4 linked regions of the Homo sapiens genome follow. The protein of the gene in region 1 purifies or fractionates together with the protein of each later gene. This does not show direct contact. Each region holds a gene or a part of one and is shown on either strand. Other genes may lie near its edges.

Evidence for each region.
Region 2: the proteins of SEC16A (region 1) and SEC23B purify together in Homo sapiens (affinity purification with mass spectrometry; 3 studies listed by BioGRID and IntAct, with this or other methods). This does not show direct contact.
Region 3: the proteins of SEC16A (region 1) and CSNK1A1 purify together in Homo sapiens (affinity purification with mass spectrometry; 5 studies listed by BioGRID and IntAct, with this or other methods). This does not show direct contact.
Region 4: the proteins of SEC16A (region 1) and CLTB purify together in Homo sapiens (affinity purification with mass spectrometry; 2 studies listed by BioGRID and IntAct, with this or other methods). This does not show direct contact.

What each region holds. Positions count from the first base shown.
Region 1 is NC_000009.12:136,459,016-136,466,040, forward strand, and holds part of SEC16A (protein transport protein Sec16A), read right to left. Parts: coding exon 6,947-7,025; intron 5,548-6,946; coding exon 5,405-5,547; intron 4,726-5,404; coding exon 4,664-4,725; intron 4,587-4,663; coding exon 4,448-4,586; intron 4,118-4,447; coding exon 3,872-4,117; intron 2,260-3,871; coding exon 2,162-2,259; intron 1,109-2,161; coding exon 1,027-1,108; intron 860-1,026; coding exon 742-859; intron 541-741; coding exon 429-540; intron 225-428; coding exon 119-224; intron 1-118. UniProt on the Homo sapiens protein: Acts as a molecular scaffold that plays a key role in the organization of the endoplasmic reticulum exit sites (ERES), also known as transitional endoplasmic reticulum (tER).
Region 2 is NC_000020.11:18,503,991-18,510,939, reverse strand, and holds the start of SEC23B (protein transport protein Sec23B), read right to left. Parts: upstream 3,001-6,949; 5' UTR 2,968-3,000; exon of another isoform or gene 2,643-2,967; intron 119-2,642; 5' UTR 105-118; coding exon 1-104. UniProt on the Homo sapiens protein: Component of the coat protein complex II (COPII) which promotes the formation of transport vesicles from the endoplasmic reticulum (ER).
Region 3 is NC_000005.10:149,499,428-149,506,452, reverse strand, and holds part of CSNK1A1 (casein kinase I isoform alpha), read left to right. Parts: intron 1-857; coding exon 858-1,006; intron 1,007-7,025.
Region 4 is NC_000005.10:176,392,540-176,399,564, reverse strand, and holds part of CLTB (clathrin light chain B), read left to right. Parts: intron 1-1,517; coding exon 1,518-1,635; intron 1,636-1,846; coding exon 1,847-1,958; intron 1,959-3,032; coding exon 3,033-3,086; intron 3,087-6,619; coding exon 6,620-6,791; 3' UTR 6,792-7,025. UniProt on the Homo sapiens protein: Clathrin is the major protein of the polyhedral coat of coated pits and vesicles.

The sequences.
Region 1 (7,025 bases):
CCAAAAAACTCACATCATTTTTTTCGATACCAATTCAAACAATCTAAGTAGCCAAAAGCTTGTTAGCACTGAGTGCCTGCCCAGCCATGACAGCTGCAGGCTGGCAGCACCTGCTTACCTGGAAACTAGGCAGGGGGCAGGTCTCGGCACCCAGGGACTGGGCGTACTCATAGGCTTCCGTCCTCTGGATTGCTTCGTTGGTTGCGAACTTTAAGAATGGCAAACTGTAGAGGAAGTGAATTATTTTGATTTGGAAAAAATGGCCAATTATTGGCATAGTCAACCTTGGAGCAAATCATCCAGAAGTGTGTCCCACCACGTGACAAATAAAGACATGATTCTGGCCATTTCTGAATTCACTAAAGGAGAAGGATTTTGTTTTACTTTGAAAGGAAAACTTACAGGACTACACTGACTTGGTTCTTTACCTGTGATTGGATCCGATTAAGACAAGCTTTGTAGTTTTCTTCGTGTAAACACCAAATCCCGCCTGGGCCATGAGGTAGCAGAAGTGGGCCGCATCCAAGAGGCCCCTTGAAGCTGCGGAGAGACGACACGACACACGGCGGGGGCTCAGCGACCGGGAGCGCTTGCAGAAGTCAAGGACGCGCACAGAAGGCACCAGAGACGCCAGCCGGACCGAGAAGGCCGGGTTCTGGTGATTTCTGCCAACGCCACAGACAACCGGGCCTTCGGCGCTCCATCCGCGACACCCAATGCCCATCTCCACCCCTGACCTACCCAGAGTGTCGCCCATGGTAGCCATCGTCCTGGACTCGACGTCCATGTTGTTGTTCAAGTTGGACAAGACCATGGCGAGGTGCGGCCTCCAATCTCCCCATTTCTCGTCTCCACAGCACTAACATGAGGAAAAACAAAACGAAGCCTCATCCCCGGAAGCCAGCGCCATTTCAATTCCACACAGCTGGGCTCACCAGGCACCTCACGGCCTGTGACAGCGTCACCCACGAGCAAACTCCACACAGGCAGTGGAGCCTGTGCAAGCCACCAGGCAGTGCCACTCACCGTGGACGCGGCAGGCATCCGTCCGGACATGAGCTGGTAGACTGTCTGCAGAGGGTCGTTGATTGGGAGGCTGTTAGCAAACCTAGGCAGACATAAACACAGAAAGACCCCATGCTGGCTCAGCTAAAAGAAAAAAGCCGGCCGGACATGATGGCTCACGCCTGTAATCCCAGCACTTTGGGAGGCCAAAGTGGGCGGATCACCTGAGGTCAGAAGTTAAGAGACTAACATGGAGAAACCCCATCTCTACTAAAAATACAAAAATTAGCCGGGTGTGGTGGTGCACACCTATAATCCCAGCTACTCAGGAGACTGAGGCAGGAGAATCGCTTGAACCCAGGAGGCAGAGGTTGCAGTGAGCTGGGATCGTGCCACTGCACTCTAGCCTGGGTGACAGAGCAAGACTCTGTCTCAAAAAAATAAATAAATAAAATAGTAATAAAATAAATTTTTTAAAAAATCAGCCCTAAGCCCTCTGATGTAATGATTAGACTTATATTTCACTTAGGCAAAGTACACACATCTCAATATTTTATTTTTCTTTCTTATCTCAATATTAAAAAAAAAAAAAAAGCTGTAAAAGATAAGGCCAGGTATGGTGGCTCACGCCTGTAATCCCAGCACTTTCAGAAGGCCAAGGCGGGCAGATCCCTTGAGGCTAGGAGTTTTGAGACCGGCCTGGCCAACATGGCAAAACCCACCTCTACTAAAAATACAAAAAATTAGCTGGGTGTGGTGGTGGGTGCCTGTGGTCTCAACTACTTGGGAGGCCAAGGCGTGAGGATCACTTGAACCTGGGAGGCAGGGGTTGCGGTGAGCTGAGATCGCGCCCCTGCACTTCAGCCTGGGCAACAGAGCAAAACTCAAAATTTAAAAAAAGCTATAAAAGATGAAGACTGAGGAATTCACTGAGATTTTACATGAAGTACTAAAAACCATGCAGTTAATTAAAAACTTTTTAAGCTCTCCACAACACGACCCAAGGAAGCCTCGAGGCCAAGGAAGCCCGAGTTCGTGTGGGAGCACAGCACAGTCAAGTGAGATCCGCCTGCCGCCTGCCCCCAGGGTGCGGACGCCGCGTGCTACAGGGAGCCAGCAGGGCTCGCCACTGGACCAGGCCACTGTGGGACTGTACCTGGTCATGACTCGGGCGTGTGTCCGGCTGTCCATCTTACTTGCAAGTAGCAGAGCGTGACCCCACAGGCCATTCTTCATTGCAGACTCCAAAGCATCCTGCAAAAGGCATTTCAGGGACCTTGGTGGGTTATCGGCGGCGCTCACGTGACATGAGTCAAGACAGGCCATGTGTCCTCACGCAGCAGCAGATACACAAACAACCCAAAGGCCTCAAAAACACACTTATTCACCATTTGGAGACTAAAGACACGTAGCGATTCATTATTTTCCTGAGTTTCAAAGTCCCTGTGGTAGTGGGTATTTGTAGATATTTGCTGCTTTTATCCATTTTCAGCATAAAACACAAGCACGCTAATCACAAACAGGGCTAATCACGCAGCGCTGCCCACCACGCCGCCCCATCCACTGGGAAACACGCTCGAGTCAACTCCCCAGTTCTAACAGGAGGCCTCCGCGAATATCCTGTCAACACGGAGAGTGACTCCAGTAAGGCAGCCTCCCCTTTCACCAAAATCATCCAGGGCATAATTTAGAACTTCTGGCTGGGAGGCAAAAACGTTACAGTAGAGAAAGATGTTAATAAAAGCTAACAGGTTACATGACTTCAATCAGTTATAAAACATCCATAATAGACTCATACTGATCAGGCCGGGCGCGGTGGCTCATGCCTATAATCCCAGCACTTTGGGAGGCCAAGGTGGGCGGATTGCTTGAGCCCAGGAATTCGAGACCAGCCTGGCAACATGGTGAAACCCCGTCTCTACAAAAAAAAAAAAAAAGTTAGCCAGGCGTGGTGGCATGCAGCTGTAGTCCCAGCTACTCAGGAGGCTGAGATGGGAGGATCACTTGAACCCAGGAGGTCGAGGCCACATTAAGCTGTGATCACGCCACTGCACTCCAGCCTGGGCAAGAGTGAGACCCTGTCTCAAAAAAAATTAAAAATAAAAAAATAAAAATACTGGTCAAATATGCCCTTTCTGAGTTTATCATGATATAAAAGGACAGAAAACTCTCAGCCTATCCCATGTCTCTGCTGTTCAGGGCCACACATGCTTCTGAGACTGGCCTCTCTCCTGCTTAGCACATCCAAAGCAAACATCATGCACCCTAGACAGCCCCTCCTGTGCACATAGTGTCACTGCTGCAGTCACTATGGACCCCCCAACCCCACTGTCCCAGAGCAGGCTCCTGTCTCAGGCCCCCCACCTGCCCCAGTCCCCACGCTGCTGTGACCCCAGTCACTGGACGCTACACGCACTGGCTGCTCTCTTGCCCATGGCCTTTCCATGCACTGCGCCTCTGACAGGTTCAGTGTGCCCTCCCAACTCCCAATGACTTCTGGGCTGTGGACTCGAGTCTGACTTTGTGAGAATGCCACAACTTGTGTCATGCACATTTCATCCGAGATTTGGCACACACAGCAGGGGCACGGCCTGTGCTCAACATGTGCATTTATCGAATAACTGAAAATTTAATCTGCAGGTCTCCAACACTGGAAACAGTTAGAAGGAAACCAACATTAACACCTCCAGAAGGATGGCATACAAGAGTCAGGCATTGTTCAGGAAACAGCAAGACCCGAAGCCCCACACTGCAGCGCGGATGCTCCCAAGAGGGGGCCACGTCCCTCCCTGAAGGCTGCAACCCCGCACCAGGCCCGACCCAGTGGACATGTGCAGGCGCCAGGTGCCATGATGAGGAGGCGCACCTTCTTACGGCCATACAGCAACAGCTCCCTGAACCTCTCGGTCTCTCTCTCGAGCGAGCTGGCGGCAGCCGCCGGACCACCAGTGAGGAAAGAGAGCTGGGCCTCACCAGACTCCTCCTCTTCCACCTGCTCCACTGCCTCATTCGTGAAATCAATCAGGTTTGCTTCATTGGGCGACTTCCCAGGAAGCCACACTGTTCTGTGGTCTCGTAACAGAAGCTCCGCAATGTCGGTCCCTACCACGGTCTGTTTGGGTCAACAGGAACAGGAAGGAGAACAACGGCTCTCAGGTGAGGACGCGTTGGACCACCACAGGCACAAAGCCCCACCCTGGACACAGCCAGACCCACAACTACCCGAAAGGCTGGCAAGGCTGGGCTGAAACCTCATCCCATCCCAACCGCACGTTCCCTCTCCCTCCCTACCCAGCCACTACAGTGTGCTTCCTAAGGGGGCCCTCGAGGCTCCCATAGCTGGCCACGCGGATCCCGCCCTGCTCCTTCGGGAGGCTGAGCATTCCCAAGACGAAATGAAGACCAGCAAGAAGAAACACTCTAGAAGTAGAAAGAAACATACCCCATTTTGTCTGCATAAGAGAACAATAAAATTCCAAAGAAGACTTGCAGACTCTTTGTCAATTAAGTTTTCATTCTGCAAACATTTCATAGCTTTGTTCTGTGCAAAATTAATGACATCCACCTTATGGGTGTCGTCTCTGCAGAAAGAACACACAGTGAGCAGTGATGTCTGCAAGGCCGGGCTCACAAAGAAATGCCTCAACAAGGAACATACTTGGCCAGGGGTCCCGGGAACGCCCGCATCTCCTCCTGCTCAGACGTGTGCTGCAGCAAGGCCTACGAGGAGAGGGCCGTGGGTCAGTGGCAGCCAGTGCGCAGCCACCCTGCTGGCAGGCCGGCCAACCCAGGCACGGATGCTGCCCGTGAGAGGAGAGGATGGCATGGCCCACCTGCCCCGCCCCACAGCAGGTGAAGGCTCTGTCGAGGCTGTTACATGGAACATGGCCTGTGTGGACCACAGCCATGATTTCAAACTTTATTTTAAGTAGTGAAATCCATTTTCTCTCCCCAAATACTGAGGCAGAACCCCAATACATGTGACAGAAGCCTGCAGAAGCTGCAGGAAGAGGCGCATGCCAGCCCCCGTCACCTCGGCAGCGCCGTGCACGTCCACCCCACCCGCCCCCCTCACCTGGGCAGCACCGGGCCCACCCACTGCATCTATCATTGAAAAGCACCAATAAAGCAAACATCCCCAAAACGAGGACAGAAAATGCATATACAATCAAACCACGTTGAACACCCAAGGCAGACGCTTACAATACTGACTTCTAGGAGGAAAAATATATGATCAAATAGAAGAAAAACCCTACAAATTGAAAATTCACAGGAATAAACATTTTCCAAGGACGTATGTCCAGAGACAAGGTCTGACAATTGAAGATGACAAACTGCAAAGCAGAGAGTTCCCCAGGGCAGCAGAGCAGTGACGCCACGCTTCTGCGTGTGCCATTACCTCCATGCTGTGGACCTCCACCAAGGCCGGCTGTCCTTCTGAAGGCAGATTGGGAATCACTTTGATAAGCTGACCGCCAGGGCCAAACCTGGCACAGACATGAGGCACTGAAAATTTTTCAGGAGAAGTTGGTCTTGATGAAACTGCATTTAAAATAAATTGAAAAAGAAACAATCAGCTTGTCACTGATGCTTCTGAGCCTAGATTTTCAATGTGCTCACACAGCTTAAATCACAGGTTAGATTTATCACGACAGACTTCCAACTCAAAAGTCGGTAATTGTTTAATATCATACTTAAAAGTAGAACTTCAGCATACGTCAGGAAAAGAAAAATGTCTGAATCATTAAGCATGAAAGCTGTTCCCTTGTACACTGAGAAAGCTCCCGCAACACCCTCATGAGCCGCCCTGAGGCTCCTGCCACGGTGCGTAATCCTCCCAGGCCTGGCCCACTCCCGAGCTCTTCCATTTTCACAAAATCAAATTCAGACTGCGATGACCACACAGCACCCAGCAAAAAGGACAGCAAAACACCTCAAGCAAAAAAGAAAATAAGGAGCCAGGCATAGTGGTGCATGCCTGTAATCCCAGCACTTTGAAAGGATCCAAGGCAGGAGGGCCACCTGAACCCAGGAGACAGAGACCATGACCGTGCCACTGCACTCCAGCCTGGGTGACAGAGTGAGACTCTGTCTCTTAAAAAAAAAGAAATGAAAAAATGTTAACTGAAACAATACTTTAAGAAAGTAAGGCCGGGCACAGTGACTCACACTCTAATCCAAGCATTTTGGGAGACCGAGGAGGATGGATCACTTGAGGTCAGGAGTTTGAGACCAGCCTGGCCAACATGGCAAAACCCCATCTCTACTAAAAATACAAAAATTAGCTGTGCATGGTGGCAAACACCTGTAATCTCAACTACTCAGGAGGCTGAGGCAGGAGAATCGTTTGAACCCGAGATGCAGAAGTTGCAGTGAGCCAAGATCACATCACTGCACTCCAGCCTGGGAGACAGAGTGAGACTCCATCTCAAAAAAACCAAAAAACAAACAAACAAAAAAACTCAGCCTACCATTAAATTCTGTAACTTTATATCTTTACGTATATTTCTGCAATTTGCCAAGAAAAAGCATTTGAGCATCCTGGAAGGGAACTCTGACTGACACGCGGGACAACTGCAGGAGCGGAGTCTCCAAGGGGAATGAGCAGCTCCCTCCTGCACGCCTGCTGAGCCACGGGGTCTGCGATGGGGATGTGATCAGGGGCTGCCCAGAGCCTGGATATGAGCTGTCCTCAGAGTCACACTTTAAAACGCATGTCGGGGCAGGCAGGGCAGCTCTCAGGCCTTAAACCAAACTGCAATCGAAGAGACAGCATCGGCCCGTCCTGACACACCCTGCTTCTCGGAAGGACGGATTGGGTCAGAGCCAGGCCAGGACATCACAATTCCAATCCCAGCCCTGACTCCCGTGTTCAGATGCCAGGCTGGGTGGCCGCCCCAGTGGGGTTAGCCGGTATCCCTCTGTCCTGCTGAGCACACACCTTGCTCCATGGCAGGCCAGACGGTGTCGGCAGGGTAGCCATACTCTGGGAAGCCGGGGCCACTGCTGAAATTGCTGCG
Region 2 (6,949 bases), on another chromosome or scaffold:
ACCATTCTTGTAGCCTCCAGCCGGCTGGAAGGCCACACGTTCCAACTAAAACGCACACCATCCCGTTCTTCATTCTGCTGGATGAACTCCAGGTATGTCGCCATAGTCTAAAAGGGAACTGAAGATAAAACTTTAATTACCTTAATGGTATGTGAAATTCTGAACTAAATGTCAAAAAAAGAAGATGGGTCATGTAACACAGTGTTTCTCTTTTTTTCCCATCTCAGCTCACTGCAGCCTCCACCTCCCGGGTTCAAGCGATTCTCCTGCCACAGCCTCCCAAGTAGCTGGGATTACAAGCCTGTGCCACCAAGCCCGGCTAATTTTTTGTATTTTTAGTAGAGGCAGGGTTTCACCATGTTGGCCAGGCTGGTCTCAAACTCCTGACCTCAGGTGATCCACCCGCCTTGGCCTTCCAAAGTGCTGGGATTACAGGCGTGACCCACTGTACCCGGCCCAACTAACACAGTGTTTCTTAAATACTTGGGAAGAACCTGTTGCTGTAGAATGACAGTATTTCTTTTCCATCTGATACCCAAAAGTCAGTTAACCGCACAGTTATCATTGATCACTGCTCCTTTCTCACCTCTCCTTTCAAGCACTTAAAAATAAATCAAAGGAGTGGGAGGTTTACAATCACCTGATCATCTCCAAACTACATGTAGTTAAACACTACTACTTCAAACCTCCTCACAGATCACACGTCCTATCAGTCAAGCCAATTTCAGCCCCTTGCTCAAGGGTAAGTCTTGAACCCTGTTTCGGCATCCAACTATCTTCCTCTCTAATCTCCTTCCTTTCTTCCTCTATTAAATTTTACATTCCAAGTGATTTTTTTTTCAGTAGCGGGGGGGTGCTCATTCCCTTCCGCACTTTGTTAACTTTGGAGAAAAGAGCTGGATACTGATCTTCAAGTTTGGTTCATAATGGGAACCAGTTTTGAGCTAAATTATTTCTACTTGGTATTACCAAAATTACTATTATGCTGAGTCTCACCAGAACCTCTTTCCTCACCACGGTTGCTTATGTTCATGCCTTGACAGGCTGTGGTCAAGGCCAGGTGTGGTGGCTCACACCTATACTCGCAGCACTTTGGGAGGCTGAGATGGGCGGATCACGAGGTCAGGAGTTCAAGACCAGCCTGGCCAACACAGTGAAACTCCGTCTCTACTAAAAATACAAAAATTAGCCAGGTGTGGTGGCACGTGCCCATAGTCCCAGCTACTCAGGAGGTTGAGGCAGGAGAATCGTCTGAACTCGGGAGGCAGAGATTGCAGTGAGGCGAGACAATGCCATTGCACAGCCTGGGCGACAGAGCCAGACTCTGTTTCAAAAAAAAAATGAAGACTGTGGTCAGTAAAACTGTCCTACAGGCTAAACTCTCAAACCCAGATGATCCCAACTTCATTGAGTATTTATACATCCTGTTCATATCCTAAAATCTAGGGTAACACACAACTCAGCTATTGGGGTTCAAGGGAACAAGCCCCTCAAGAAAAGTAGTAAAAAGGCAAATTAAAGAGTCTATCAAATTAAAGTGGCCTCTCGCGCCCACTTCCTGAATATGGATAACAACTGTCTGTTATTTTGGGAAGTACCATACTGTAAATAATTTTGATTAAGGCAATAATATTGCATGGCTAGAAAAGCAAATGAATTACTCTACTACATAAAGCCCAGAACACAAGAATTCCAATGTTTGCTCCAACTGAAACTCTAAGAAATCTGTTTATTTCTGGCAACGGCAAGAACCTGAAGCACTGTGTGCACAGGAAGCACTCTGGAGCTTCATGGGAAGCAAAGGGATAACTAAAGTCGGAATGAAAGCAAGTTCTATCACAACTCTCAGCAAGTATGTCAGCAGATTTCATTAAATAACCGTCTCTCTCTCAAAACGTTCTTTATTAAAAGGCACTGGCGGCCGGGCGCGGTGGCTCACGCCTGTAATCCCAGCACTTTGGGCGACCGAGGCCGGTGGATGACCTGAGGTCAGGAATTCAAGACCAGCCTGGCCAACATGGCAAAACCCCGTCTCTACTAAAAATACAAAAATTAGCTGGGCGTGGTGGCAGGTGCCTGTAATCCCAGCTACTCGGGAGGCTGCGGCAGGGAGGACTGCTTGACCTTGGGAGGCATTGGTTGCAGTGAGCCGAGATCACGCCACTGCACTCCAGCCTGGGCGACAGAGCGAGACTCCATCTCAAAAAAAAAAAAAAAAAAAAAGAAGCTACTGCCTCCATCTAATGGTTTCCAAGCATGTACAGCCTAAGACCTGCTCCCTCCTTTTCCTACTGCCTGTTTCCCTCACCCTTCTAGGGTCTGGATTCTTAGCAGTGGACACATAATCCAAGGGGACTATAGAAGGTCCACTAATCATCTGAAGTTATGCGCATGAGGGAATATGCCGTTTTTCTAGGGAGATGGGTCCATAGCTTTTACCAAAGTATCGGGGAAGGTATCTGAAGAGGTAAATAACTGAAAGTATGAATTAGTGAATGAATGAAAGGCCTGGAAAGATAACAGGAGAATATGCCAAAAAATCTGAACCACCCTTATCGCGCCAACTCGTAACTTCTCAGGACACAGTGACCATGTGTATGTAAGAATAAGTGAGGTTTAATCCTTGAAGGGAGTCCAAGGACCTGGGTTCCAGTTCCAGCTGTCATGAAGCAAAAGTCGTTTCACTTGTCTGAGTCTTGAGTTTCTCAACTATAAAACGGGACTTGGGTCCTTCCAGGTGTGCGCACTCCGCAATTCTGGGGAAACTGGAGCCAGAAATCGGTCCCGGCCTGGTGCGGGACGACATCCGCAGGGGACTCCCGGATCATCCATTCCCCCGCTACCCTAAACTGTCAAGAAAAGGCCTCCTCCCAGAAGCCGCTCACCTCGCCCCCGGCAGAAACTCATACCCGTGCCCTCGGCCCTCCGTCACCTATGCGCCCCGCTCACCTGGCCGGAGCCGCTCACCTAGCTAGAGCCGTCCTCACCCACAGCTGCAACAAGCAGGCTCCGGCTCCCACCGCCAAGTCCAGCTCAGCTCTCAACCGATTGGCCAGCGCCCCAGCGCGTCATGCCACGGCGCTGTCCACTGGCCAATCAAAGAGCGCTTCTCCGACGGACTGGAGGAAGCGAGAGACTCAGAGAAGCTCTGCCACCATCTTGGAACAGGGCAAGACAGGTGTATGTCGCACTTCAAAACGAGAGTTCCTCGGAACACGTTTCCCCACCCCTAAACGTTTCTGTTTCAGAAAACCCCGGCGCCTGCCGCACCGTTGCCTAAGCGCAGCCAGCGCTCCTCAGAGGTTCGCCCTGATACAATATGACATCCGCTCGTCTCAGTGGGAAGTCCCGCTGATCGCCTTAGCTACCGGAAAGCGAGAACGATGACGTATGCTCGCGGAACAGGGAGCTGCACTGGTTGGAAGAAACTAAGGCTGCCGGAAGAAGGCATTAGCATGCGGAAGGGGCGGGGCGGGTGGTGAGCGCGGCGGCGCTTACGCACTTGCTGGTTTGGGAGTCGGTCTCTGTGGTTAAGTTTGAAGTACAGAGGTGTGGTGGTGCTTCACGTTACAAGCTCTCCTACCGTCGCTTGCTGTAATGTCTTGGCGCTCTCAGCGGAGGCTGGCACTAGCGCACAGTCCCTGTCATCCTTCTACATGGAGATAAATAATTGAGAACTGTAATATTCAACCATTTTAGGAGAGTAAGCTTAGAAATACATGGAACATAACTTTCTTTTAAAAAATAATTCCAACGTTTAGATTTAGGGGGTACACTGCGTATTTGTTACCTGGCTATGAGGTTTCGAATTCGAATGAGCTGGTCACCCAGATACTGAGCATAGTACCCAAGTTTTTCAGCCCCTCCCTGCCTCCCTCCCCACTCTAGTAGTCCCCAGCGTCTATTAATGTCACCTTTGTGTCCATGTGTGCCCAATGCTTAGCTCCCACTTTCAAGTGAGAACATGTATTTGGTTTTCTGCTTCTGCGTTAATTCTTTTAGGATCATGGCCTCCAGATGCATCCATGTTGCTGCAAAAGGCGCGATAGAACACAACTGTATAAAGCCACCACAACCATTTTTACACACGCTGACAAGTGGCAAACATGAACACATCATTACTGTGACTCAGAGTTGTAGTCTCTGTAGCATATAAAAATAAGCAAAACGATGTAAACATAAAATTATGCAAGAACATATCTAGGCATCCAAGAAGTATCCATTAATTAGCTCAATTTAATACTAAGTTTTAAGTTATCTACAGATCATAGAAATTATTAATAGTTTAAGGCACAAAGAAACAATTACTGTTAAATGTGAGAATGATTCAGTTTTGTTGAACAAATTCACATTTTTCAGGATCTTAAACAATGTAATGTTAATATTAGCTTATCAATAGTAAACTTTTATAAATTTAGGAAGTTCAGATTAATTATTCTCGGTAAGGAAACAAACTCAAAATGTACACATGTATAATACTTAACACTGAGAAAAGACATAGCTGGGATTTTTTTTAACCAAAACTTAATATTATTCGCCAAAGATTTGCCTTGATTATTTGAACCTGGATTCTTTCTGTACTAGCAATTTCTGTAAGAAAGATTGTTATAGGACCATCAGGTTCGATTGTCCATTGTGCGGTAACAGAAAGAATAGGAGTTGCAGCAGATAAAGAGTTCCATAATCAAGTGGCAGCCAAATGAGGAGACAAGAGCAATCCTCAAATCCACCTCCCCAAGAGATTAGAGATGGCATTTTTAAGAAGTCTGGAGGGGCAATGGGCTAAAGTGTGGGGATTTCTGATTGGTCAGGAAGTGAGAGGTGAAGTCATGGGACAGGGAGATGAAGAAACTTCATTCCAGTGTTGTTTCTTGGTGGAGGTCTTTATTTATTTATTTAAAAAAATTTTTTTTTTGTAAAGCAGGGTCTCACTTTGTTGCCCAGGCTAGTCTCAAACTCCGGGCTTCAGGCGATCCTCTCACCTTGGCCTCCCAAAGTGCTAAGATTACAGGCGTGAGCCACTGTGCCCTTCCTGGTGGGGATCCCTAGACAGTTTGGCATCAGCTGTTTTGTGGGAATTCAGGATCTGAAAAATACCTTAAGCAATTCCTGGGTACAAAGAGCTAGTGTCAGAGATTCTGTGGATAGGAGCAATCAGGGAGTAGGTGATCAGTGTGCTGCAAGGCTTTTGGTTAGTTAGCAGCTGCAGGGAAGTGAATTGAAGGGCACCAATGCACCCTGGTCAGTGCCTAACTAACCTGCCTAAAGGCTGGCTTGTAATCTTGTTAACCCTGTCAGGATGGTTTCAGCATTTTTAAGAAATTTTGCATGCATAAGTTTAATTTACTTATTTTCTGGAATTTTAGAAATAATTGATTTACATGTGTTTGTTTCCATAAGTGAATTATAACAGAGCTCCTTTAAGACATGAAATAATATAACTTATTAAAACTTTACAAAGGTAGTAAGATTTTTTTACTCCCACAACAAGAGGGGAAGGCCTTTGTTGATTACAGCCGGGAAGACACATAGACACATAGCATATAGCTTTGGTTCTGCAACTTTGGCCACAGGTCGAAAGTAAATTCAGAAACATAAAAATTCAGTGGACTAGATAACAAAAAGCTGTTCTCCTTCCCAATGGGCATGGAAGTCTTAACTGATTTGAACTCATAAGTAGACAAAAAGGCAAACAAACAAAAAGACTAACAAACCAGATTTTTCATCATCTCTTATCCAAAAGAGAATAGATCTCTAAAAACTATTAATTCACTTAAAGAGATCACCAAATGTTCAGAATGTAAAACCTAGTTCCTAATTTTTTTTTTTTTTTCTGAATGAGGCAATGTATTAACCCAGCATGGTTTGTTCCAATGCTTCTTGTTGGCAGCTGCCACCTGTCCGGCAATTCTGCCCAGATCTCTCTGTCCCTGAGGTGTCAGTTTGCGGCCCCCATCTTGGTCCTTTTCCACCATTTTCAGCCCCTCCAGGGCTTGGAGGACCCGGCGGAGGACACTCTTGAAGCCTCGGCCGAAGTGGCTGGGCATGACGCCGTTTCTCTGACGTCCCCATAGATCTTGGTCATGGAGCCAACCCCAGCGCCACCCTGGAGGTACAGGTGCCGCGCTGTGGAACCGGCTCGTGTGTAGAACCAGTTCTCAACGTAGGGAGGAAGCTCTTTGTGCTTGGCCAGCTTGACGGTGTCCACCCATTCGGGGACTTTCAGCTTCCCGGACTTTTTGAGAAAGGCTGCCAGAGCTCTGACGAAGTCCCGCTGGTTCACGTGGTTTACAGGAACTCCAGGCATCGTGCGGCTTCCGCGCTGCCAGCCAGGGGAAAGGGAGCAACGGGGTTTCCCGCGAGTTCCTAATTGGTGTCGCCATTCATGGGGAAAAATCCGCCAGCTGTGGGCGAATCAGAAACAAAACCCAAAATCAGTAAGGAGGAGAAAGAAACCTAGGGAGAAAGTCAGCAACGCTGTAGTACTATTGCTACTTGGTATTCACTCCCGGAGCCAGGAAAAAATGTGCTTGGGCTTAGCCCCATGGGGTGTTCTTCAGTAATGTGGTTTACCTGGTTCTGTCAGGTGAATCCATTGGGATGTTGGTGAAAGCTTCAAAACTGTTAAAGTGTTTCAAAAGGTAAAATTATGGCCTTCATGCAAATATAAAATGAACATGTGCCAAAGATCTTACTTAACTCATTCATTGATTTTAATTAATCCCTACGACCAGGAGGGATGTTCAGACTGGTTCTAAGGAGAATTTGATTTATAGTGACATATTCTCTATCACACAAAATTGATTTGCATTGCTGTGGACAGGAATAGTTTTCATTGTTGTGGGCAGGGAACATTTGCATTACTATCTTCTATAAGTTAATTTCTATCTCTACAGAGTTGTAAAATAGCATACTCAAAGGCAGAGGTACATCCCTCCTACGGCAAATG
Region 3 (7,025 bases), on another chromosome or scaffold:
CCAGCCTGCCCGACATGGTGAAGCCCCATCTTTACTAAAAATACAAAAATTAGCCGGGTGAGGTGGTGCTCACCTTTAATCCCAGCGACTCGGGAGGCTGAGGCAGGAGAATCTCTTGAACCTGGGAAGCGGAGGTTGCAGTCAGCTGAGATCCCCCCAGTGCACTCCAACCTGGGTGACAATGAGGCTCTGTCTCAAAAGAGAAAAACAAAGAATTCAAGTAATCTGCCAGGTGCAATGGCTCACACCTATAATCCTAGCACTTTGGGAGGCCGATGGGGGTGGATCACCTGAGGCCAGGAGCTCGAGACCAGCCTGGCCAACATGGTGAAACCCCGTCTCTGCTACAAATACAAAAATTAGCTGGGTATGGTGGCAGGCGCCTGTAATCCCAGCTACTCAGGAGGCCGAGGCAGGAGAATTGCTTGAACCTGCGAGACGGAGGTTGCAGTGAGCCGAGATTGCACCACTGCACTCCAGCCTGGGCAACAAGAGCAAAACATGGTCTCAAAAAAAAAAAGAGAGAATTCAGGTAATCTTTTAACCCCAGAAAAGTGTCTTCCCCAGGTACCAGTCAGACATCTTATTCCCAAACTTCCAGTTGAATATTTACTCTTACTTGTTTTTAGGAAGTACCTCCTCTTATGAGTATTCCCCTAGATAACTGACAGCTTGATTTCATGTTTCAGTTTTCATGCTGCCTTTTTCATCTATAATAAGAAATATTTTAGAAGCTGCCACACTTGAGGAAATATTCGTTGTGTAAAGAAATGCTGTCACTGTCTTAAAAAGTTAGTAGGTTATATAACTGGACTCTGTTATTAAAGGATTAACATAAAATATTTTATGTGTTCCAGGACCCTGAACCATCAATATGACTACACATTTGATTGGACAATGTTAAAGCAGAAAGCAGCACAGCAGGCAGCCTCTTCCAGTGGGCAGGGTCAGCAGGCCCAAACCCCCACAGGCAAGCAAACTGACAAAACCAAGAGTAACATGAAAGGTTAGTAGCCAAGAACCAAGTGACGTTACAGGGAAAAAATTGAATACAAAATTGGGTAATTCATTTCTAACAGTGTTAGATCAAGGAGGTGGTTTTAAAATACATAAAAATTTGGCTCTGCGTTAAAAAAAAAAAGACGTCCTTGGAAAATTTGACTACTAACTTTAAACCCAAATGTCCTTGTTCATATATATGTATATGTATTTGTATATACATATATGTGTGTATATTTATATCATTTCTCTTGGGATTTTGGGTCATTTTTTTAACAACTGCATCTTTTTTACTCATTCATTAACCCCCTTTCCAAAAATTTGGTGTTGGGAATATAATATAATCAATCAATCCAAAATCCTAGACCTAACACTTGTTGATTTCTAATAATGAATTTGGTTAGCCATATTTTGACTTTATTTCAGACTAACAATGTTAAGATTTTTTATTTTGCATGTTAATGCTTTAGCATTTAAAATGGAAAATTGTGAACATGTTGTAATTTCAAGAGGTGAGTTTGGCATTACCCCCAAAGTGTCTATCTTCTCAGTTGCAGAGCATCTCATTTTCTCTCTTAAATGCTCAAATAAATGCAAAGCTCAGCACATCTTTTCTAGTCACAAAAATAATTCTTTTATTTGCAGTTTACGTATGATCTTAATTTCAAAACGATTTCTTTGTTTTTGGCTTGATTTTTCACAATGTTGCAAATATCAGGCTCCCAGGGTTTAATGTGGAATTGAAGTCTGCAGCCAGGCCTTGCAAATTGAAGGTAACTGGGGCAAATGCCATTGAAACCGCTAGTCTTATTTCCTTTCTACTTTTCTTTGGCACTCTTACTGCCTGTAAGGAGTAGAACTGTTAGGGCACACTGTTGCTATACAGTTTAACTCCCATTTTCATGTTTTGTCTTTCTTTTCCCATTTCTGGGGCTTACCTCCTGATACCTGCTTACTTTCTGGAAGTAGTGGGCAAGTAAGATTTGGCTCTTGGTTTCTAATTTTTAAATTTCTGAATACTGCCCTAGTCTGAACTTGGCCTTTATAGATTAATCTTTGCTTCACATTTTTAGTGTTGTATTTAAACTATTTTATAATTTAAAAATAGATTCTAATCTGAAGATACTTTTCAAGAAATATTATTAACTGATGTCATCCTCATCCCAGCAGCTCATCTGTTAGGAATGAAGTTGAGATGCTTCTATTCCATGTTTTTGTATTTGGGAAGGATTCAAAGTTGAAGGTTTATTGTCGTTGGGTTTTTCAGATGGTGACATGTAAACTCAGGATAGCAAACCCTAATGTTCACACAGTGCTCTGCCTCTGCATCTCAGTTGGGATAGTTGCTCCTTTTGAGTGTTTTAATCATCGTATAACTAATCATAGTGCCAAGAAGTTCATAATGTGTTATGTAGCTAATGTCACTGAAAAACAGTCCTACCATTTTAGGTAAGACCAAACAGAGTCTCTAACCCAAGGACTTGTTACACCTGACAACCTATAGTATATTTGCTTTTTCTCACAAAATGAAACCAATTTTGCCGAAAGCTAGCTGGGATAATAGGATCATCACAAGTTGCAGTTTCTATAACTAAAATTAGATTGAAATCTCTTCTGACCTAGAACATTTTACTTCAGGCATTCAGCAGATTTCAGAAAGAATTACCTTATTTTAAGTTAGTTTCTTTGTTAGTTTACTGTGTGTCTCTTATTCAATAAACAAGCAGAATTTGTGTCCTGCCCTATCCATGTCTTAAAGATGAGAAGTTGGATCCACTGAGTTAGTTTCATTGGGGCGGGGGAAAGAACTGTAATTAAACTTGTTTAATCCTTATTTTGTATTGTAGCTATTTTTTGTAAAAGCAACTTAAAATCTTTTAAAAATTTTATAGTGACATTAGAGACAATGGTCATACAAATTATCACATAAACATGGACTTGAAAAATTAGGCTTTTCATAAAACACATCACATGTCATTGACTGCTTTTTAGAAATACACTTCCAAGGCAGTACATCTGTATTGCTACTGAAAAGTGCCATTTCACAGAACACAGACTTCTTTTTGCTCTTTGACATCTTGAAAACATCTGTTTTTCTTTTTTAATACAAAACTTTGTGCTCAAGACAAATCTTACATGAAACTCTCATAAACCATGAAAATGTAGCTGGCCTTCGGGCCTTAGGCATGAAATAAGCATGAGGAACATATTCCCCTAACTTCTACCCCCAGCCCAGCAAGTTATCCTTTAAGAAATCTCCTAGGAATTCTGGAGTTTGAAAACAATTGCTCTATGTTATTCCTGCTTCCAGTCTCTAAGTAACAAGGGCATTTAAAAGCATAGTCTCTTAAGGTCCACTATAGTGGTTCTTTATTTAAGGAATAACTCAGCTGGGTGCAGTGGCTCACGCCTGTTATCCCAGCACTTTGAGAGGCTGAGGCAAGCAGATCACTTGAGGCCAGGAGTTCGAGAGTCTGGCCAACATGGTGGAAACCCATCTCTACAAAAAATACAAAAATTAGCCAGGTGTGGTGGCGTGCACCTATGGTCCCAGCTATTTGGGAGGCTGAGGCAGGAGAATTGCTTGAACCTGGGAGGTGGAGGTTGCAGTGAGCCAAGATTGTGCCGCTGCACTCCAGCCTGGGTGACAGAGTGAGACTCTGTCTCAAAAAAAAAAAAAAAAGGAACTCATACAGCTCAATGATTCATTGATCCCAATAATAAATCGTTTTAATAATGATGAAAACATCCTACTGGGGTTTTCTTGTTAAAAACTTTAGGACAGGCGCAGTGGCTCATGCCTGTTATTCCAACACATTTGGGAGGCTGAGGTGGGAGAATTGCTTGACCCTAGGAGTTCTAGACTTGCCTGGGCCACATAGTAAGACCCTGTCCCAGCTCCCTCCAACATCGTCCCCAACCCCCCCCCCCCCAAAAAAAAAAAGCGCCAGGCGCAGTAGTGAGTGCCTGTGATCCCAGCTGTGTTGGGAGGCTGAGGTGGGAGTATCACCTGAGCCCTGGAGGTTGAGGCTGCAATGAGAGCTGTGATCATGCCACTGCACTCCAGCCTGGGCAACAGATGAGACCCTGTGTCACAACAAGGAATTTTTAGAAGGTGCTTTTTATATTACTCTTCACAGAGTTAAATTTTCAGAGGATTTAGTATTATTGAACTAAGTTTCATAAGTGTATTTTAAGCAAGTAAATCTCTAATGTAGGAAAATCCCCAAAATGGTAGCATTTACTAATGTTTTATATGGTAATTTTTGAAAAATATATCTGATATTTCTTCAGTAAAAATGGTGTTGTTTTAATAACTTAATAAGAATGTTTAAAGATTCTTTAAGTCTGGCTTATCTAGCTAATGTGGGCCTATTAAATAATAGGCAGACTTCTGCCTTCCTTATATTCTTTAGATCTTTTCAAATACTCCATTCCAATATCCATCAAAAGACTTCTCTTTATGCCACTTATTATCTATACTAGTTTTTAATGTTCAATTACTACAAGATTATAATTACTGTTTTTATTCATGTTCCCAAGAAAAATACATAAGATTCACACCCAACACACTTCGAAATTTATTTCACTCCCTTTGACTATATGTGATTATCAAAAAAGTATTTTTCAAGATATTAAAAATAAGTAAAGGAAAATGAAATATTTTTAGGACATTCAAAATCTAATGAAGTTCAGTGTTTCTTTAATTGAGGGCAGGCAGAGGTGGGGGAGAATTTCAGAAGGTAGTGAACCCAAAGGTGGATTCTTGGATAATTCTACTATTCTGTACTCTCATCATCTTAACCCATCTGTTTACTACCCTAACCATAGTTACTAAGCAGAGTTTTATCATAATAATATAGACAGCTCTCAAAGTATTGACATTCAGAGGGGATTACAAATATTATTTTTCTATCATATTGACCTACCATGTCCACAGTCTTCCTTGAATTACCTTCCAGTTTTACTGGGCTGCATCTACCGTTTATGTCTAGTTTGACTTTTTCTGAGTTCACCAATTGCTGCTAGGAATGTGCTGGTCACTCAGCAGCACACCCACATCACAGGGGAAGATTTTGAAATACCTGGACAGTCTGAACACACTGCTCTGAATACACTCAATTCTAAGAAGTACCAGGGAACCGCATCTTCTTGCTGAAATCTTGAATTTTTGTCAGCTTTTTTTTTTACTGTGGACAGTAAAGCTGGAAAGATCTAAATAACCCAACAGGAAATGCGGATGAAAGTGCAAGAGTTGGTTTGTGGTCATCTGGAGTCCATGTCTCCAAGACTGCTGGACCTTCAAATTCTGCAACTTGTTAGATCATCTGGATGATAGCACAACTGTTAGAAGACCTAGAAGAATACAGCGTTGCTATGACTCAGTGGTGTTGAATGCAGACCATCTACCAGCTGGGGAAAGAATCAATTATAAACAGGTATTTTAAAACTCCAGAACGTCAGAAATGTGTAGCAGAATGAATTCTGTTATAAGGAAGACAAAACAATTCAGTCTGTTTTTTAATGCAGTTTAGGAATAGTGTATACCTCCTATACTTAAAATTGTCATTTATCTTTCCCAACTTTAAATACTCTTTTAGTTTCTATAGGGAAGGAAGAGTTATTACAGGTTTTTTTTTTTTAATTATTCTTTAACTTTAGATACTGCCAATCTGATTTAAAATTCTCCAAGCTTAATTCTGTGCAACAAACAGAACCACACAAGCAGCCAGGCACTGTGGCTCACTCCTATAATCCCAGCATTTTTGAGGCTAGATGGGAAGATCACTTGATCTCAGGATTTTGAGAACCATCCGGACAACATAGGGAGACCTCATCGCTATTTTAAATAATTTTAAAAAGAAAAGAAAAAAAAAGGCCGGGTGCGGTGGCTCGCTTCTGTAATCCCAGCACTTTGGGAGGCTGAGGCGGGCAGATCGTGAGGTCAGGAGATTGAGACCATCCTGGCTGACACAGTGAAACCCTGTCTTTACTAAAAATACAAAAAAGTAGCTGGGGCCGGGCGCGGTGGCTCATGCCTGTAATCCCAGCAGTTTGGGAGGCCGAGGCGGGCGGATCACAAGGTCAGGATATCCAGACCATCTTGGCTAACATGGTGAAACCCCGTCTGTACTAAAAATACAAAAAATTAGCCGGGCGTGGTGGCGGGCGCCTATAGTCCCAGCTACTTGGGAGGCTGAGGCAGGAGAATGGCGTGAACCCAGGAGGCGGAGCTTGCAGTGAGCCAAGATCGCGCCACTGCACTCCAGCCTGGGCGACAGAGCAAGACTCCATCTCAAAAAAAAAAAAAAAAAAAATTAGCTGGGCGTAGTGGCGGGTGCCTGTAGTCCCAGCTACTTGAGAGGCTGAGGCAGGAGAATGGCGTGAACCCAGGAGACGGAGCTTGTAGTGGGCGGAGATCGCGCCATTGTACTCCAGCCTGGGTGACAGAGCGAGACTCCGTCTCAAAAAAAAAAAAAAAAAAAGAAAAAAAGAAAAAAAACCCCACAACCATGTTATAGGAAAAGTTAGTATAAATGACATAGCATAATTAATATATTCAAAATAACTTTTAAAAAGTTGTCTTGTAGCTTGAAGGGATCCTAAATATCAAAAGCCCATCACAAACTTACAAGCCTTACTGCTACGTAAATATCCCTTTGAACTAGTTTCTGGTTCTATTTAAAAAGTCGAAAACTGTTGAAATTAATTTACGAATAAGAACAGATACACACTTTGTGGGGAGGCTGAGGTGGTAGGATCTCCTGAGCCCAGGAGTTTTAAGTCCAGCCTGGGCAACATAACAGCAAGACCCCATCTCAAAAAAAAAAAAGCATATCTTTTGTTTATTTTTTTAATAGACAAAGTCTCACTATGTTGCCCAGGTTTATTTGGAACTCCTGGCTTTAAGTGATCTTCCTGCCTCAGCCTCCCAAAGTGTTAGCATTATAGATGTGAGCCACCTCGTCTGGGCCAGAGCATACATTTTAGATTTCAGATTGGGTGGCGGGCAGGGATAGAATATC
Region 4 (7,025 bases), on another chromosome or scaffold:
TTGCTGTGTTGCCCAGGCTGGTCTTAAACTCCTGGCCTCAAGTGATCCTCCTGCCTTGGCCTCCCGAAGTGCTGGGATTATAGGCATGAGCTACCATGCCCAGCCCCATTTTTCAAATGAGAAAACAAAAGTCAGGCAAGGTTAAGCAATTTCTCCCAGGCCTTACAAACATTTCATAGTATCAGAGGTGGCATCTGAACCGAGACAGCCTGGCTGCAGAGTCCAAGTTCTTTCCCATGGTGTGATCTGAGCTATGATCATGCTGCATATCTCAGGGATGCTTCTCTACTCAACAAACATCTACTGAGCATCTGCTGGGCCAGGCACTGTGCTGGGCTCTGGGGACATAGCAGTGAAAAGGACAGAGATGACATTCTGATGGCAGAGACAGACAAACACATTATAAAGTAAGGTCCTTTTGGGCTGGTCACGGTGGCTCAAGCCTGTAATCCCAGCACTTGGGGAGGCCGAGGCCGGTGGATCACCTGAGGTCGGGAGTTCGAGATCAGCCTGACCAACATGGAGAAACCCCGTCTCTACTAAAACTACAAAAAATTAGCCGGGTGTCGTGACGTGTGCCTGTAATCCCAGCTACTCAGGAGGCTGAGGTAGGAAAATCGCTTGAACCTGGGAGGCAGAGGTTGCAGTGAACCAACATTGCACCATTGCACTCCAGCCTGGGAAACAGAGGGACACTCCATCTCAAAAAAAAAGTGAGGTCTTGAGGTCTTTTTGGACTAAGTGTTAGGAGTTAATACAACCACAATAGAGAGTGATTTTAATGACGGTAACACAAGGGACTCACTGTGCCAAGCAGTATTTTTATTTTTTATTTTTATTTGTTTATTTTTTGAGACGGGGTTTTGCTCTTGTTGCCCAGGCTGGAGTGCAATGGTGTGATCTCGGCTCACTGCAACCTCTGCCTCCCGGGTTCAAGTGATTCTCCTGCCTCAGCCTCCGGAGTAGCTGGGATTACAGGCATGCACCACCACGCCTGGCTAATTTTTTGTATTTTTAGTAGAGTCGGGATTTCTCCATGTTGGTCAGGCTGGTCTTGAACTCCCAACCTCAGGTGATTTGCCGCCTCGGCCTCCCAAAGTGTTGGGATTACAGGTGTGAGCCACTGCGCCCGACATTCTTTATAATTTTTAACTCATTTCATCCTTATGTCCTCCCATCAGAGTGCATACTGTTATTTAGCCCATTTTATGACAAAGAAAGTGGCTGGCACACGCTTTCTTGAGTCTTCTGCTTTGGGGGTATCAAAACCTATAACTGGGCCAGAGGCAATGATCAGGCACAGAGAGGGTGAGTAACTTGCCCGCAGTCACACAGGTGGCGGAGTGTTGCTGGCAGAGGGAACAGCAAGTGCAAAGATAGGTGTAGTCACCAGAGACAGTGGGTATGAGGTTGTTTGAGGCTGAGTTATCCAGACATGAGTGGGTCCCCAGCAGGGGCAGCAGAGACAGCGGGGCAGGTGTGCTGGCTGGATAGACTGCTGCGTGTTTGTGTTCTAGGAGGCCAACGGTCCTGCTGATGGCTACGCAGCCATTGCCCAGGCTGACAGGCTGACCCAGGAGCCTGAGAGCATCCGCAAGTGGCGAGAGGAGCAGAGGAAACGGCTGCAAGAGCTGGGTGAGGGCGGGGCTGAGGCGGGGTTGGCTGGGTGGGCTGTGTGTGGGGTGGAGTGTGGGGAGTCCTCGGAGTGCATGGGATGCTGCATGCCTTAATGTGGGACTGGGCCGGTGCGGCCCTGTGGCTGCCTGGCAGGGGCCAGGGGAGGAGCGCGGCCGGGCCTGTGCATCCCAGCTGGAAAGCAGCCACTCATTCTCTTGTGGGGTCCTAGATGCTGCATCTAAGGTCACGGAACAGGAATGGCGGGAGAAGGCCAAGAAGGACCTGGAGGAGTGGAACCAGCGCCAGAGTGAACAAGTAGAGAAGAACAAGATCAACAACCGGTGAGAGGGCTGTAGGGACATGAGGGGGCCATGGGGACATGAGGGGGGCTGTGGGGACATGAGGGGGCCGTGGGGACATGAGGGGGCCATGGGGACATGAAGGGGTGGGGACATGAGGGAGCTGTGGGGACATGAGGGGGCCGTGGGGACATGAGACGGGCTGTGGGGACATGAGGGAGCTGTGGGGACATGAGAGGGGCTGTGGGGACATGAGAGGGAGCTGTGGGGACATGAGAGGGAGCTGTGGGGACATGAGAGGGGCTGTGGGGACATGAGAGGGGCTATGGGGACATGAGAGGGGCTGTGGGGACATGACTGAACACTGCCCAGTGCTCCCTGCCTTTGAGGCTCTGTCCTTCACGGTACAAGGTCTTCCAGGAAGGGAAAGGCCTGTTCTGGGAAGCTACCCTTCTGTCTAGGGAACTGCTGCATGCCAGGCTCTGGGGTAGGCACGGAGGAGATGGAGATAAGGAGGACCCAGCCTTATGTCCTCAAAGGGCGCAGAGGAGAAAAACACACATGTTCAACTAAGCTCAAATACAGTAGGGCCCTCTGCACGAAGGCCATGGAAGCAAGGAAACAGGTCAGGGAGAGACCTCTGTGTCTTGGGACTTGGGCTTTGGAAGATGACTAGGAGGAAAAAAGGGAAAAAAGGGCAGGAGGTAGGGGGGCATTCTAGACCTGGGTACGAAGAAAAAAATGTGATGTATTAGGCAACAGGGGGCCAGGGAGCGGTGGGAGAGAAGGCAGGAACCTGTGGACTCACACTGTAAGGGCCTTGGCTGATGAGTTGGGCAGTGACATGGGCAGTGGGGAGCCACTGAAGGTGTTTGAACAGGAGTAACATGATCAGGGATGAATTTTAGAGAAGGTGCTGGGGCCAGGGTGAAGGTCCCCATTCTCCTGTTTGGGGCTGTGGGTCGTTGCTGAGCCTTCCAGAACTATGCTTCCTAACATTTCTCCCACTGGAGGTACTAATGCTGTCTCTCTCTCTCTCTCTAACCTTCTGCCTGCCTGTCTGTCTTGCCATCTGCCTTCCCCCACCTAACCCCTTCCCTCAACCTTTCCCTCAAGGATCGCTGACAAAGCATTCTACCAGCAGCCAGATGCTGATATCATCGGCTACGTGTACGTGTCTGTTTTGCTTCTCTGTTGGGGGAGCTAGAGAGGGAATGGCCACCACAGTTTCTTGAGTTTCCTGCTTGTGGGATATAAATGAGTGTGGCTGGGCTCGGAGCAATGGTCAGAACAGGAGGCAAATGCCCTGGTGGGTGCAGGCAGCAACCACCTCCCTCCCTCCAGTGAAGTGGAGGCTGCTTGGCTAAATCAGAGCCTTGCAGGATAAAGGCAGAGAAAGGAATGTGCTTGCCACTTATTCCCATGTGGGAGGGGCAAATGGCAGAGCACCCCAACTCCCTCCCTCTGTGATGTCTCTTGGTGGGTGTGTGGGGTGAAGGGTTTTTTGTTTTTTGAGATGGAGTTTCGCTCTTGCTGCTCAGGATGGAGTGCAGTGCTGCGATCTCGGCTCACTGCGACCTCCACCTCCTGGGTTCAAGCGATTCTCCTGCCTCAGCCTCCCGAGTAGCTGAGATTATAGGCACATGCAACCGTGCCCGGCTAACTTTTGTATTTTTAGTAGAGACGGGGTTTCACCATGTCGGCCAGGCTGGTCTCGAACTCCTGACCTCAGGTGATCCACCCACCTCGGCCTCCCAAAGTGCTGGGATTACAGGCATGAGCCACCACACCCAGCTGAAGGGGTCTTTTATTCAACAAAACAGACACTGAGCATGGGATGCTGGAGGCATGTAAAGGACAAGAGCTGCTCCTTTGTGACATCCATCTCTTCCTCCTGCCCCAGTGCACTGACTTTGGCCATCAGCCCCTGCCCAGACCACCACAGGCCCCCTCACATGTTTCAGGTTTGGGGTCTACTTGGTGTGATGAGTAATCAAGACCAGGGTTGGCAAACAGGTTATATCTCGTGCCGACGTCAGTTAGTTGGTAGAGACATCCTGGAGGGTGGTGGTGGGGATTGTGGAGCTGAAGAGAAGGTACTTGCTGTTCTTCACTCTAGGTGTGCCCTGGCAGCCCGTCATGTGTCGAGGCTAAGCCTCCTCTCACAGGGCACAGAGCACACCAGAGCCTTCGTCTGCTTCCTTCCACTCTCCCTCATTTAGTACTCTTTGGCACTCGCCTTGTGCCAGATTGGTAAGACACCCACAGGCCGCCCCCCTCACCGTGCTCATGGTCTGGAGTGTGTTATGATAAGGGCCTTGTGGAAGGACACAGTGAGCTCTGGAAGCCACTCTCTGCCTGGGGAGCCTGGGCAGGCTTCAGAGATGCAAGACCTTCAGCTGACCTTAAAGTGTGAGAAGGAGTTTGCTGGATAGGGAGGGTGGGAAGAGAAGGTGGGAGGAGCAGCTGGGGCCAAGGCATCCAGAGAGAAAAGGCCCAGCTGGCTGCAGTGGCTGAAGCTCTACAGGCTGGGATGGTGGGGATGGTGGGGATGGTGGGGATGGGTGGGAGCTGAGGCTGGGAGGTGGTTGGCTTGGGGCTGGTTGCAAAGCGCCTGTTGTGCCAAGGCTGAGCTCAGACTTGATCCAGAAGGCAGTGGGGAGCCACAGGAGGCTTCCAGCAAGGGATGGGGATGTCAGATGGGCATGGGTGCTGTGGAATACCACAGGGGGCTCGATGCTTCTGTTGAGCCTGAGGAAATGGCCCAGAGAGCACCCAGGAGAGCCCTGAAGAGAGAGTATAGACCAGGGCTTCTCAAACTTTTTTTTTTTTTTAAGACGGAGTCTTGCTCTGTCACCCAGGCTGGAGTGCAGTGGCATGATCTCAGCTCACTGCAACCTCCGCCTCCTGGGCTCAAGCAATTCTTCTGCCTCGGCCTCCTGAGTAGCTGGGACTACAGGTGCCCGCCACCATGCCCGGCTAATTTTGTGTATTTTTTAGTAGAGACGGGGTTTCACCGTGTTAGCCAGGATGCTCTCCATCTGACCTCGTGATCCGCCCACCTTGGCCTCCCAAAGTGCTGGGATTACAGGCATGAGCCACCGCGCCTGGCCACACCCAGCTAATTTTTTGTATTTTTAGTAGAGATGGGGTTTCACCATGTTGGCCAGGCAGGTCTCGAACTCCTGACCTCAAGTGATCCACCCGCCTCTGCCTCCCAAAGTGCTGGGATTACAGGAGTGAGCCACTGCGCCCAGGCTCAAACTTTCACATGCCTATGAATTACCAGGGGGTCTCGTGAAAACCCTGATTCTGATTCAGCAGGACGGTGGGGAGGCCCAAGGGTCTGCATTTCTGACAGGCTCTGTCGTCATGCTGATGCCATTGGACCATGGACGCTTTGAGCTGCAAGGACAGAGGGGAGCCTCTGGACCCTGAAGGGACAGCTCCGAGGATAGCTCCCCTCATCCCCACTTGCCACCCAGCTCCACGCAGCACTTTCCTTTTTTCCAGACCTGCTTGCTACCTCATTGAATTCTCAGTCCAGTGAAATAGTTGGTAGGGCAGAGCTATGATCCTCATTTTACAGGCTAGGAAATGAGCATACAGCCAGCATCCCTAGAGAGGGGCCAGGTCACCTGATCCGGGGTCAGCTCTTCCATGGAGCGCTCCTGCCATCAGTCATGTCTGGCATCGGCAGAACTGGTCCTGCTTGAGATGGAGAGGGGGCTTCCAGGGACTTGTGAGCGACCCTCGCTGGCCAAACAGGACATAGACCCAGCTCTCCTCACCTAAGAATCCCTTATTGTCTTTCTGTTAGTGAGTCCCACGTGTAGATTTTGTCCACTAGACTGTATTTACTTGTTTCCCCACTGTCCCTTAGTCAGTGGCTTCTGTGACTGTCAACCAGAACTTCTGATGAAGGACCGCCAGTTTTCATCCTAACTTGATTCCAACCAAAAGCAGACTCCAGTGGAGCATTCATGCCCCAGGCTGTGGCTCCTCAGAGACAGTGGTGGTTCTGGGCTACAAAGGGCTCTGTGGTGAAAGACGCTTGGGATGTGGTGGATTCCATCACATACACACCTTGGAGGGTCACGACGCACACAGCACATGAAAGGCTTTGAAAGTCTTGCTGTAAAGATCCTCTTTAGCTGGGTTTTCCATAGGTATTTGACCACAGTCTTTCTGGAGAATCCTCACACAGAACATTCAGGCAATGCTGAACTAGGTGCTTCTGTTAGATGGTTAGTCAGTGTCCTACTTCTGCCAAGTTTTTGGAAATGGTGAAATAGCTAAGGTCCTGCATTAGGTCGTCCTAGGACCTCCAAGGGTCTTTAGGTGTCAGGAACCTCAGGTTGGGAACTCCCGATGGGGAAGTAATGAACAGAGGGTGCCTAGGCTGGGAAGACTTTCTGAGGAGGTGAGGCCCGCACTGAGACCTGAATGACAAGAAGCAGCAAGCCAGGAACAGGTCTGGGAGAAGCGTGTTCCAGGAAGAGGTGATAGCAAGTGCCAAGGTCCTGAGGCAGGACCAAGCTAGGCTTCCTCCTGCGCCAAGGCTGCCCTCCTCTGAAGTCAGGGGGGCACAAGGCTGGGGAGGACACAGTGCCCCAGAGTAGGCTGGGCAAAGCAGCCTTGCTCAAGGGCAAGGCTGGGGGAAAGCAGACTGCTATAAAAGCCCGTCCTATCTCCACCCGCAGGGCATCCGAGGAGGCTTTCGTGAAGGAATCCAAGGAGGAGACCCCAGGCACAGAGTGGGAGAAGGTGGCCCAGCTATGTGACTTCAACCCCAAGAGCAGCAAGCAGTGCAAAGATGTGTCCCGCCTGCGCTCGGTGCTCATGTCCCTGAAGCAGACGCCACTGTCCCGCTAGGTGCCTGCTAGGTGCATGGCCACAGAGCATGGGCTGGGCCTGGGCACAGGAGGAGCAGCTGCTTTGGTCGGGGTGGAGACTCGCAGCAGCTGCTACCCACAGCCTATTCCACTCCTCCCCATCTCCAGGCGCTGGGAGGGGGGCCCTCACCCCATCACGCCTCGCTCCCTCCTGGCCCTCTGGTCCAGCCCCTCACGCCTCCTCTCAGTCTACTCAATTGTGACTGTCCCTCCT